Linked DNA regions of Homo sapiens: region 2 is linked to region 1. Evidence: fine-mapped expression QTL. Tissue or cell type: whole blood. Region 1 holds a variant in brackets; the other region holds the start of a gene. All regions are shown on one strand. Distances are between the middles of the regions.

What was found. PIP is the estimated chance that this variant, and not a neighbour inherited with it, causes the effect.
Region 2: it holds the start of SLC35E2B, and the variant in region 1 is fine-mapped to the expression of SLC35E2B in whole blood (TOPMed, PIP above 0.99).

Annotation. Positions count from the first base shown.
Region 1 is chr1:1,647,553-1,652,552 of GRCh38, reverse strand. It overlaps CDK11B (cyclin dependent kinase 11B), which reads left to right. Exons shown (of 20, transcript NM_033486.3): 4 at 1-114; 5 at 2,916-3,054. Among named protein-coding and RNA genes, the nearest start is that of CDK11B, 9.0 kb to the left of the region's middle. The variant T/C (reference allele first, on the strand shown) is at 2,669.
Region 2 is chr1:1,689,970-1,696,791 of GRCh38, reverse strand. SLC35E2B (solute carrier family 35 member E2B) reads left to right here and starts at 3,997. Exons shown (of 10, transcript NM_001290264.2): 1 at 3,997-4,343; 2 at 5,399-5,816. RefSeq lists silencers at 3,524-3,603, 4,174-4,333 and an enhancer at 4,168-4,462.

The DNA.
Region 1 (5,000 bases):
ATTCTTTGGCCATCAAACCACCCCAGCAAATGTCTCGGAAAGAAAAAGCTCATCACAGAAAAGATGAAAAGAGAAAAGAGAAACGTAGGCATCGTAGCCATTCAGCAGAAGGGGGTACAGAAGCATTTACTTTCTTTGACATCATGTTCAAGTGTGGTTTCTTTCCTGTTCCTACTCTTCTGCCTTCCCCAGAGCACCACTGAAAAACCAGAGAAAGCAAACTCTAGCTGAAAGCATACGTGTGTCACAGACCGTTCAGAATGGCTATAGAGAGAATACTCTAGCTAAAAGCATGCGTGCGTCACAGACCGAAAACCAGAGAGAGCAAACTCTAGCTGAAAGCATGCGTGTGTCACAGACCGAAAACCAGAAAGAGCAAACTCTAGCTGAAAGCGTGCGTGTGTCACAGACCATTCAGAATGGCTATAGAGAGAATAGCTGAAAGCATGCATGTGTCACAGACCGTTCAGAAGGGCTATGAGAGCAAACTAACTAAAAGCATGCGTGTGTCACAGACCAAAAACCAGAGAGAGCAAACTCTAGCTGAAAGCACGCGTGTGTCACAGACCATTCAGAAGGGCTATACAGAGCAAACTCTAGCTAAAAGCATGTGTGTGTCACAGACTAAAAACCAGAGAGAGCAAACTCTAGCTGAAAGCATGCATGTGTCACAGACCATTCAGAAGGGCTATACAGAGCAAACTCTAGCTAAAAGCATGCGTGTGTCACAGACCAAAAACCAGAGAGAGCAAACTCTAGCTGAAAGCGTGCGTGTGTTACAGACCATTCAGAAGGGCTATAGAGAGAATACTCTATCTGAAAGCATGCGTGTGTCACAGACCATTCAGAGGGGCTATAGAGAGCAAACTCCAGCTGAAAGCATGCGTGTGTCACAGACCGTTCAGAAGGGCTATACAGAGCAAACTCTAGCTAAAAGCATGCATGTGTCCCAGACCGAAAACCAGAGAGAGCAAACTCCAGCTGAAAGCATGCGTGTGTCACAGACCATTCAGAAGGGCTATAGAGAGAGTACTCTAGCTGAAAGCGTGCATGTGTCACAGACCATTCAGAGGGGCTATAGAGTACTCTAGCTGAAAGCATGCGTGTGTCACAGACCGTTCAGAGGGGCTACAGAGAGCAAACTCCAGCTGAAAGCATGCGTGTATCACAGACCGAAAACCAGAGAGAGCAAACTCTAGCTGAAAGCGTGCGTGTGTCACAGACCATTCAGAATGGCTAGTCCATTTTTCCTCTGGGGTTTTCTCTCCCCCATTATATTGTTTGGAAGCAGTTTGTTTACATTTAAAATGACCTGAATTCAACAAGTATAGGAGAAAAACACACCCCAAAATGGGTATTTGCTCAAGTCCAAAGAATGGGTTTGGCTTGAGCAGTTTGATCTCGTACCAACATCAGGAGGTTCTTACGGGTGTTAGGAAAATTGGACCTGGAGCCCGATTGAAATGTCATGATTATAAATACACTTGATTAATTAATGTGGCTTCATTGCACAGTGGAGAAGCCCACTGATAGCAAAGCTTTGTTCTGTAGTCTTTGTGAAGAGTGATTTTTGTATTATAAAACTGATAATTATAGTTTATTCAGTATGGAAAAGTTTTAAAAGACGAATATTACAATTCTGCTCTTCTGTGATAGCAGAATTGTTTTTCTTTTTTCTTCTTTCTTCATAATTAGACGCTTACTGCAGATAGTTTTTTATTTTCAAAGTTTTTTATTTAACATAAAATCATGATTATTCGGCTGGGTGCAGTGGCCCAGGCCTGTAATCCCAGCACTTTGGAGGATCAATTGAGTCCGGGAGTTCAAGACCAGCCTGGCCAATATAGCGAGACCCTGTCTCTTTAAAAAAAAAAAAAAAAAAAAAAAAGGCCGGGCGCGGTGGCTCACAACTGTAATCCCCACACTTTGGGAGGCCGAGGCCGGCAGATCACGAGGTCAGAACATCAAGACCATCCTGGCTAACATGGTGGAACCCCGTCTCTACTAAAAAGACAAAAAATTAGCCGGGCGTGGTGGCAGGCGCCTGTAGTACCAGCTACTCGGGAGGCTGAGGCAGGAGAATGGTGTGAACACGGGAGGCGGAGCTTGCAGTGAGCCGAGATTGCGCCACTGCACTCCAGCCTGGGCGACAGAGCAAGACTCCATCTCCAAAAAAAAAAAAGAAAAAAAAGAAAAATTAGGATTACTTAACGTTAACATCATTATTTAAATATTTATTTAAATATTTACTGTTCTTGATTTAATTTCTTTTTTTTTTTTTTTTGGGACGGAGTCTTGCTTGTCACCCAGGCTGGAGTACAGTGGCGCAATCTCAGCTCACTGCAAATTCCATCTCCTGGGTTCACGCTATTCTCCCGCCTCAGCCTCCCGAGTAGCTGGGACTACAGGTGCCCGCCACCACACCCAGCTAATTTTTTGTATTTTTAGTAGAGATGGGGTTTCACCGTGTTAGCCAGGATGGTCCCGATCTGACCTTGTGATCCGCCCACCTCGGCCTCCCAGAGTGCTGGAATTACAGGCGTGAGCCACCGCGCCCGGTCTTAATTTCAGTTTCACGTGGGTTTTTTTTTTTTTTTTGCCCAGGCTGTAGTGCAGTGGCGTGATCTCGGCTCACTGCAACCTCCGCCTCCCGGGTTCAAGCAATTCT[T/C]CTGCCTCAGCCTCGCTTAGTAGCTGGGATTACAGGTGCCTGCCACCACGCCCAGCTAATTTTTGTATTTTTAGTAGAGACGGGGTTTCACCATGTTGGCCAGGATGGCCTTGAACTCCTGACCTCAGGTGATCCGCCCGCCTCAGCCTCCCAAAGTGCTAGGATTACAGGCATAAGCCTCCGTGCCCGGCTTCATGTGAAATTTTTGAAGTGAGGTTTCTTTGCATGACACTTTATTTCTCATTAGGGAAGCATGCTAGAGTGAAAGAAAAAGAAAGAGAGCACGAACGTCGGAAACGGCATCGAGAAGAACAGGATAAAGCTCGCCGGGAATGGGAAAGACAGAAGAGAAGGGAGATGGCAAGGGAGCATTCCAGGAGAGAAAGGTGAGTCGGCTGGGTCAGTTGAGGACTTTATAAAAGGGCTGTGGTAGTGTGTCCCATCCTAGAAATGAAGAAGAATTTGGCAATAGAAGTCACATCTGAGCCAGGTGTGGTGGCTCACGCCTGTAATCCCAGCACTTTGGGAGGCCGAGGTGGGCGGATCATGAGGTGAGGAGATGGAGACCATCCTGGCTGACATGGTGAAACCCCGTCTCTACTAAAAAAATACAAAAAATTAGCTGGGCATGGTGGCGGGCACCTGTAGTCCCAGCTACTTGGGAGGCTGAGGCAGGAGAATGGCGTGAACCCGGAAGGTGGAGCTTGCATTGAGCTGAGATCCCGCCACTGCACTCCAGCCTGGGCGACAGAGCGAGACTCCGTCTCAAAAAAAAAAGAAGAAGTCACATTTGGTGCAGAAGTGGTAGACATGGAAACAGCACAGTGAACGCTGGACGAGGCTGACCAAGAGAACTGTCCTGAGGGAGTGAGTTTTCACTGCATCTGGAAGTAAGAACGGGTGTGATTTGATTGAGGGAAGACAATGAAGGGATCAGAAATCTGCATGTCCGGCCGGGCGCGGTGGCTCATGCCTGTAATCCTAGCACTTTAGGAGGCTGAGGTGGTTGGATCCCTTGAGCCTGGAGGTCAAGGCTGCAGTAAGCTATGACCATGCTATTGCACTCCAGCCTGGTTGACAGAGTGAGACTGTCTCAAAAAAAGGAGAAGGGAGATCCTAAAAACCTTGAAACAGTCTGGAATTCGGGACCCTGGACTCCCAGGACTCCTGGCCATTAGTTTATATATTCGTTCCCCTTTATGAGCCAGATTCCCAAGAAAGAACATCGGTGTAGCCCCAGATCTGTTCCGTGAACCAGGAAAAAGGCTGTAGGCCAGGTGGGAGCAGGCCCATCTCCGCCTTCAGAGTGAGTCCACAGAAAGCTTGCAAGCTGCTCCAGGAAGAGAGGAGTCTGAAGCGGAAGGGCAGCGATGTTTGCCAGCAGCCAGGGCTGGGTACACAGCATGTAAAGATGATGAGAGGGCGCTGGTTCTTGTTGATGCCGAAGGGTGTGGGAGACACTGAGGCCCAGGGGTCAAGGTCCGAGACCGCTGCGGGGTGAGCAAGGTTTCAGTTGGCCTAGTTCCTGTTAGTGTGTGAAACATTCATGTATGCCACACCCTGTGCCAGACATTGAGTGTGTCTTGTCCCACGAGAGTACAGCTTGGGATAGAAGTGGAGGTTGGTAGATGAAATTTGGGCTGTCATATTGATTTCCCAGAAGGTAAAGACAGGAGAGTGAATGAGCAAAAATTGTTGGGGGCAGACTTCTGGGTAGGGCCGATTCAGATCAGCCAATCCAGAACTGGGTATGGTAGCATATGCTACGTGGGAGGCTAAGGCCAGAGGACCGCATGACGCCAGCCTGGGCAACGTAGGGAGACCTTGTCTCTGACAAAAAGGAAACTGATAAGGATAATCTGAGAAGCACTGATGCTTGGAAAACTGCTGAGCTGTGGGTGAAAGCAGTAAGAATCTGACCTTCTGGCCTGAGAGCTGCTCCCTTTACTGCTTCCACTCTGCACTTGGGAAGCACGGAGGTTCCACTGGGACAGGGCAGCTGCAGGACCTGCAGTTTCCTTGCTGCCTTGGAAGGGGTTACTCCGTTTAGAGCAGTGGGCAGTGGCCTTGCCCACCAGCATCCTCAGTGGAGGGAGGAAGAAAAGGCCAAGAGGTCTGCTAGAATGAAGTACAGTGTGGTTGGGAGCAGCTGTGATCTCGCCAAAGACGTGCAGCAGAGACTGGAGAGAGCTCGAGCCGCCACCCACTTGTGACCAGCCCTGAGGATGCAGCTGCGTGAAAGGACCTGGCAGAAAATAGAAGCCGCCACAGATGCGAATGACGCGTGAACGTTCAGTGTGCTCCCTGTCCACACACAGCCGTGGGCCAAGGA
Region 2 (6,822 bases), 43 kb before region 1:
TCAGAGACAGGCAGTGCGCTCTGGGAAACAGGATGGTTCCTCCAAACCAGTGAAGGGCCCAGGAAAGCATGAGCGGCCCTGACATGTATGGAGGGTCCAAAGGCTGCGGGAACTTGCCCGTGAGTGACCTTGGCCTGGAGAACTCCCCGGCCTCAGTTTCCCCACCTGCTGATGAGGACAAATTGCAGGGGCATGAGCGGCTGCTGCTCCCCTACCTCTGCGCAGGTGGCCGAGTGGCCTGCAGGCTGGGTCTCCAGGTGGGGACCCTTCCCTCTTCCTCCCCACCCACTCTATCCCCTTCCGGCGTCATGTGGATAGAAATTCATTAATATGCACAACAAATGACTACATGCAAGCAGGAAAACATTTGCAATAATACAGCAGGTCGATGTTCTCAACTAGCAAAACAGATGCAATAATACAATTCGTGGATGTTCTCAATACAGACAAAGCTCATATAATCGACACAAAACATTCACAGAAAAATTGTCAAAGGGCAGAAACCGATGACTCAAGGAAGAATATAAATAGCTAAGAAGTAAATGATCAATAATCAAACTAGAACATAATCAAAGAACTTTAAAATTAAAATTATTAATACACTCCTCCCAGGCAAAATAGCAAAGAGAGGGGACATGGTGGCTCACACCTGTAATCCCAACACTTTGGGAGGACGAGGTGGGAGGTCCTTCTGGGGAGAGGAAGAGAGGAAAGCACACAGGCTTCCAGACACTATTCCAAAATCATTAATACGCACACCCCAGGCCCAGCACGGTGACAGCCACCTGCAGACCCAGCTACTCGGGAGGCTGAGGCCAGAGAGCCCTGAGTTTGAGCCCAGCCTGGGCAAAGTAGCGAGATCCCCCATCTCAAAAATAAAATAAAATGCATGGTTCCTCATGAAATGTAAGGCTTTGCTATAAAAACTTTGAGAGGCCAGGCGTGGTGGCTCACACCTGTAATCCCAGCACTTTGGGAGGCCAAGGTGGGTGGATCATGAGGTCAGGAGTTCAAGAGCATCCTGGCTAACAACGGTGAAACCCCGTCTCTACTAAAAATACAAAACAATTAGCTGGGCATGGTGGCGGGTGCCTGTGATCCCAACTCCTCGGGAGGCTGAGGCAGAAGAATCTCTTGAACCTGGGAGGTGGAGCTTGCAGTGAGCCGAGATCGCGCCACTGCACTCCAGCCTGGGCGACAGAGTGAGACTCCGTCTCAAAAAAAAATAAAGGCCGGGCGTGGGGTAGCTCACGCCTGTAATCCCAGCACTTTGGGAGGCTGAAGCGGGCAGATCACAAGGTCAGGAGATGGAGAACATCTTGGCCAACATGGTGAAACCCTGTCTCTACTAAAAATATAAAAATTAGCTGGGCGTGAGGGCACACATCTGTAATCCCAGCTACTCAGGAGGCTGAGGCAGGAGAATCACTTGAACCCGGGAGGCGGAGGTTGCAGTGAGCTGAGATCGTGCCACTGCACTCCAACCTGGGCGATGAGAGCGAAATTCCATCTCAAAAAAAAAAGGAGTACTTTTTATAAATCTGCTTTTGAAATCATTTGGATACCACAGCGGCCCTGCTGACCACAACAGCTGAGACTGTTGGGCAAATCACCAGACATTTCTGGGTTTCCTGGAAAGTAGGAGAATCTACTTTGTAAACTGCTCTCAAATTTATGAACTCCGTGTGGATAGTGAACTCAGGCAGCAGGCAGGTGGCACTCCACTGCGTTAATTTCACTTCATTTTATAATTTTCTTTCTTCCTTTTTTTTTTTTTTTTTTTTTTGACGGAGTCTCACTCTGTCGCCAGGCTGGAGTGCAGTGGCCCAATCTTGGCTCACTGCAAGCTCTGCCTCCTGAGTTCAAGTGATTCTCCTGCCTCAGCCTCCCAAGTAGCTGGGATTACAGGCACGTGCCACCATGCCCGGCTAATTTTTTTTCGTATTTTTTGTAGAGACGGGGTTTCATCGTGTTAGCCAGGATGGTCTCGATCTCCTGACCTCGTGATCCGCCCGCCTCGGCCACCCAAAGTGCTGGGATTACAGGCGCGAGCCAACGCACCCAGCCTTTTTTTTTTTTTTTTTTTTTTTTTTTTTTTTTTTGTGAGACAAGGGTCTCACTCTGTCGCCCAGGCTGGAGTGTGGTGCTGTGATTCTAGCTCACTGCAGCCTCAAGCTCCCAGGCTCAAGCCATCCTCCCACCTCAGCCTCCCGAGTGGTTGGAACCACAGACACCATCGCTGCGCTCTGACCGGCTCCCGGGGGCGCTCCGTGCCCCTCCTCCTGCCCCACTCCTCTGGGGACATCCCCACCAAAGACCCCACGGGAGGAAACAGTCCCAGCCTCTGGCCCAACCCGGCTGCGGGCGCCACGGGGAAGCCTGGGGAAGGAGGCTGCCATCAGCCTCCTGAAGCTTTACGAAGGTTCATGCAACGGAAACAAAAACAAGTGGAAGTTTAACAAAACGTAAAAGTAATATTTATTTATTTATTTATTTATGAGATGAAGTCTCCCACTGTCGCCCAGGTCGGAGAGCAGCGGCGCTATCTCGCCTCACTGCAACCTTCAACTCCAAGGTTCAAGCGATTCTCCTGCCTCAACCTCCCGAGTAGCGGGGACCACAGGCACGCGCCACGAGACCCGGGTAATTTTTTTTTGTATTTTTAGTAGAGATGGGGGGGGGTTCACTATGTTGGCCAGGCTGGTCTCGAACTCCTGACCTCAGGCGATCCGCCCGCCTCAGCCTCTCAAAATGCTGGGATTACAGACGTGAGCCACCTCGCCCGGCCAAAAGTAATCTTTTCTTTTTTCTTTTGACAGGGAGTCTCGCTCTGTCGCCAGGCTGGAGTGCAGTGGCGCCATCTCGGCTCACTGCAACCTCCGCCTCCCGGGTTCAGGTGATCCTCCTTCCTCAGCCTCCGGAGTAGCTGGGATTACAGGCGCCCGCCACCACGCCCGGCCAATTTTTGTATTTTTAGTAGAGACGACGTTTTACCACGTTGGCCATACCAGGCTGGTCTCAAGCTCCTGACCTCGTGATGCGCCGGCCTCGGCCTCCCAAAGTGTTGAGATTACAGGCGTGAGCCACCGGGCCCGGCCCAAAAGTAATCTCTAAAGAGCCCTTTAGCCGTAACTTCATTCCTGAAAATTATTTGGGAAAGTAACGCTAGGAAAACGCTCGACGAAGCTCCGGAGCCGGGGGTCCTCGGGGCCGCAGGCGCGCCCGCGGGTGTCTGCTCCGGATGTCCCGCGGCAGCCCCGACGCCAGCCTGGATACGAAGGCCCCGCCCCGGAGCGCGCCACCAGCCAATCAGCGCCCTGAGGCGAGTCCTCACCCCGCGCGGCGGCCCCGCCCCCCGCAGCTCCGGGCCCAGCTGTCAGAGCAGCTTTCCCTCAGGCTGGGCGGAGCGTGGCCACTTCCGCCAGGAGGCGCCTTTGTGTCTTCTAAGTTAAGCCTATTCAGTGGATTTCTTATTCCTGGAACCCAAACCTGGGCAGTAAACCCTCCGGGGCTTAGAGGCCGCTGCCTCCACAGACTGGCCGATCCCGCCCTGAAGTGCCGCTGGTGGAACAGCCCGGGCGGAACCGCCCGGGCGGAACCAACGGGCTGCCGCGGGGGGTGGGGCCACGGTCCCCCCCCTTCTGCCTTCAGTGGAACGGCCCCGGCGGAACCAACGGGCCACGGGGATGCACTACGCGCACCGTCGTCCTCTCCCTCTGCCTGCAGTGGAACGGCCCGGGCGGAACCAACGTGCGGCCGCCCGGAGCACTCGGCGCGCCGTGTCCCTCCCCGTGTGGCTGCACTGCAACGGCCCGGGCTGGACCACCAGGCGGCAGCGGAGAGGCACTTAAAAGCCCCGTGTTACCCTAGACCTTAAAAAAAAAAAAAAAACTGCGTGTTTCCACCCCCGTCGGCCTGCAGTGGAAGGGCCCGAGCAGAACCAACGGGGGAGGGGACGCTGAGCGCGCCGTGTTTCTCCTCCCGTCTGCCTGGAGTAGAACGGCCCGGGCGGAACCAACGGGCAGCCGCGGGGGCGTTGTGGGCCGCGGCGCGTTTCCCCGGCTCCGTGGCTCTGGGGCACTGAGGAGCGGCGCCCGCGGGGCAGCGAGGAGCCCGATGCAGGGTTCTGCGCGTCATTTCCGGTCCCGCGGGCGCCCCGTGAAGCCCACCTGGATCCGCCAGCGCTGTGCCACTCCCCAGTGCCGAGCTCCGAGCTGTCTCCGCGGCCTCGCGCCCGGCCCCTCCACCGCGCGCCTCTCAGGCCCCGCCCGCCAGCGTCCCTTTGTTGTGAAGGCGCCGGGGCCTAGCGCTATGCCTGCGGCGGAGACTGCATCAGGCTCTCGGTGGGTTCTGCGTGCGGGGTGCTCTGCTCGGTGATCGGTGCTGGGTGCTGCGTGCTCGGTGCTCGGTGCTGGGTGCTGGGTGCCGGTACTGATGCTGAGTGTGCGGGCGTCCGGGGTTTCCCTGCCCGGATTCGCTCCTGGGGGTCCTTTCCTATGGCTGGCGCTGTGCGCGGAAAACGCTGGTGGGGTTTTCCCAGCTGGCTTTAAGCGTTTTCACGTCCGGGAGTCCACGGCGACCCCCACGCCCTGAAGCCTGGGAACGCGGTGTGCGTGGCCGCAAAAAGAACAACAACAACAAAAAAACACAAAACAAAACACGCAAAAAACTAAAGCAAAACTCCCGACAGCCGAGCCCCGTTCGGTGCCTTTTCTTTTTTTTTTTCTTTAATGGAGTGAAATCTACTTTGCTCAGGAAGCCTGCAAATCACATTTTCAGGCCAAACGAGGCAGTATTTTAGAAGGGGTCGCTGAGGCAGGAGTAGGAAGGCTTTCCACTCCACTCACGCATTTTCAGTGTAGGCGAATCGTAAAACGGAGGGCAGAACGAAAATGAGCGGATCTGGGAGTGCAGGCTGCGCTTCGTCCACATCGATAACAGATGTTTCCTGGTGAAGATGTGTAGGGCGCAGCGGGTCACCTGGTCGGGGGAGGGCACAGGGCGTCCCTCCACGGGGTGCCTTTGGCGTTGGGCACTTGTGTGGTCTCCAGCTTCCGGGTTTTGGAAGCGGAGTGTCCCCTGCAGCCTGAGCCTCTTGCAGGTGGTTTCCTTGGGACGAACTCCCAGGGGGAGGTCTGAGTTCTGGGGCATGGTTTGAAGATTTGGGACACATTTTGCCTGAAATTCCCTGCTGGCCGTTTGAACCCACCTGGACTTCCTGACCAGGGGCACGGATTCTTAACCTCTGGTGCAGGGGCCTGGCTAGGAGAGGTCTGCACAGTTGGACGAGGTGCAAAGTGACGCTTTGTCAGTAACCCGGCGTTGAGATTCCTGTGGTGGGACGAGCAGCTCCTATGGCTTTATCCCATTTTAAATCCAAGTTTTCTTTTCCTTCTAGTCCTCGGGCTCCACCCGGGGAGCTGTGCCCAGACAGCAGAAGGGAAGGATGTCACTTCTGAGATGAGGTTCAGAAAGGTCTGGGCTCCTGTCCTGGCTGCTCTCTCCCACTCCCTGATGAGCTTGCTGGATGAAAGCTCCTGTCAGGCTGTGGGGCGTCCTGTGGAGAAGCTGGCAAGAAACTGGTGGGGGCCCTTTCCACCTATAGCCAGCAAGGAACTGAACCCAGCCAGCGTCCACCTGAGTGAGCTCAGAGGTGGGCCTCAGCCCCAGTTGAGCCTTCGGATGAGGTCACAGCCCTGGTCCATGGTGTGACTGCAGCTTCAGGAGGGACCTTAAGCCAGAGGTGCCTGGCTAAGCTTCCCGCAGATTGCTGCCCCACAGGAGCCAACATCAAAAGCATTTGTTGTTTTGAGGTGGTAAGTGTGGAATGACTGTTACAGGGCAGTAGAGAAGGAGCATGCACCCTTCCTGCTTCTTATTTGCCTTTTAGAAATTGTCCTCTGTGAATCGCTTGAACCTGGGAGGTTGAGGTTGCAGTGAGCTGATATCTCACCACTGCACTCCAGCCTGGGCGACAGGAGCGAAACTCCTTCTCCAAAAACATAAATTCTTCTCTGTGAAATATGTTGTTTTGTTTTTTTTTTTTCTTTACTTTTTGAGACGGAGTCTTGCTGTGTCACCCAGGCTGGAGCAGGCGCAGTCTCAGCTCACTGCAACCTCCGCCTCCCAGGTTCAAGTGATTCTGCTGCCTCAGCCTCCTGCGTGGCTGGGATTACAGGCGCCTGCCACCACGCCTGGCTAATTTTTGTATTTTTGGTAGAGACGGAGTTTCATCATGTTGGCCAGGCTGGTCTCGAACTCCTGACCTCAGGTGATCTGCCCGCCTTGGCCTCCCAAAGTGCTGGGATTACAAGCATGAGCCACCATGCCCCGCCAACATTTTTTTTTTTTTGCCTGTTTTTCTACTTGGTTTGTAGGAATTCTTTATACTTTCTGGATATTAATCCTTTGCCATGTTGCAAGTATTTTTTCCCAGGTTGTGGCTGTTGATTTCACTTTATGGTATGTATATATATATATATATTTTTTTTTGTTTCTTTTTTTTTTTTTTGAGACAGAGTTTTGTTCTTATTGCCCAGGCTGTTGTGCAATGGCGCGATCTTGGCTCATCACAACCTCTGCCTCCCGTGTTCAAGTGATTCTCCTGCCTCAGCCTCCTGAGCAGCTGGGGTTAAAGGCATGTGCCACCATGCCGGCCAACTTTGTATTTTTAGTAGAGATGGGGTTTCTCCATGTTGGTCAGACTGATCTGGAACTCCCAACCTCAGGTGATCCACCCACCTCAGCCTCCCAAAGTGCTGGGATTACAGGCGTGAGCCAAGTCTGGCCTTTTTTTTTTTTTTTTGAGACAGGGTCTCACCC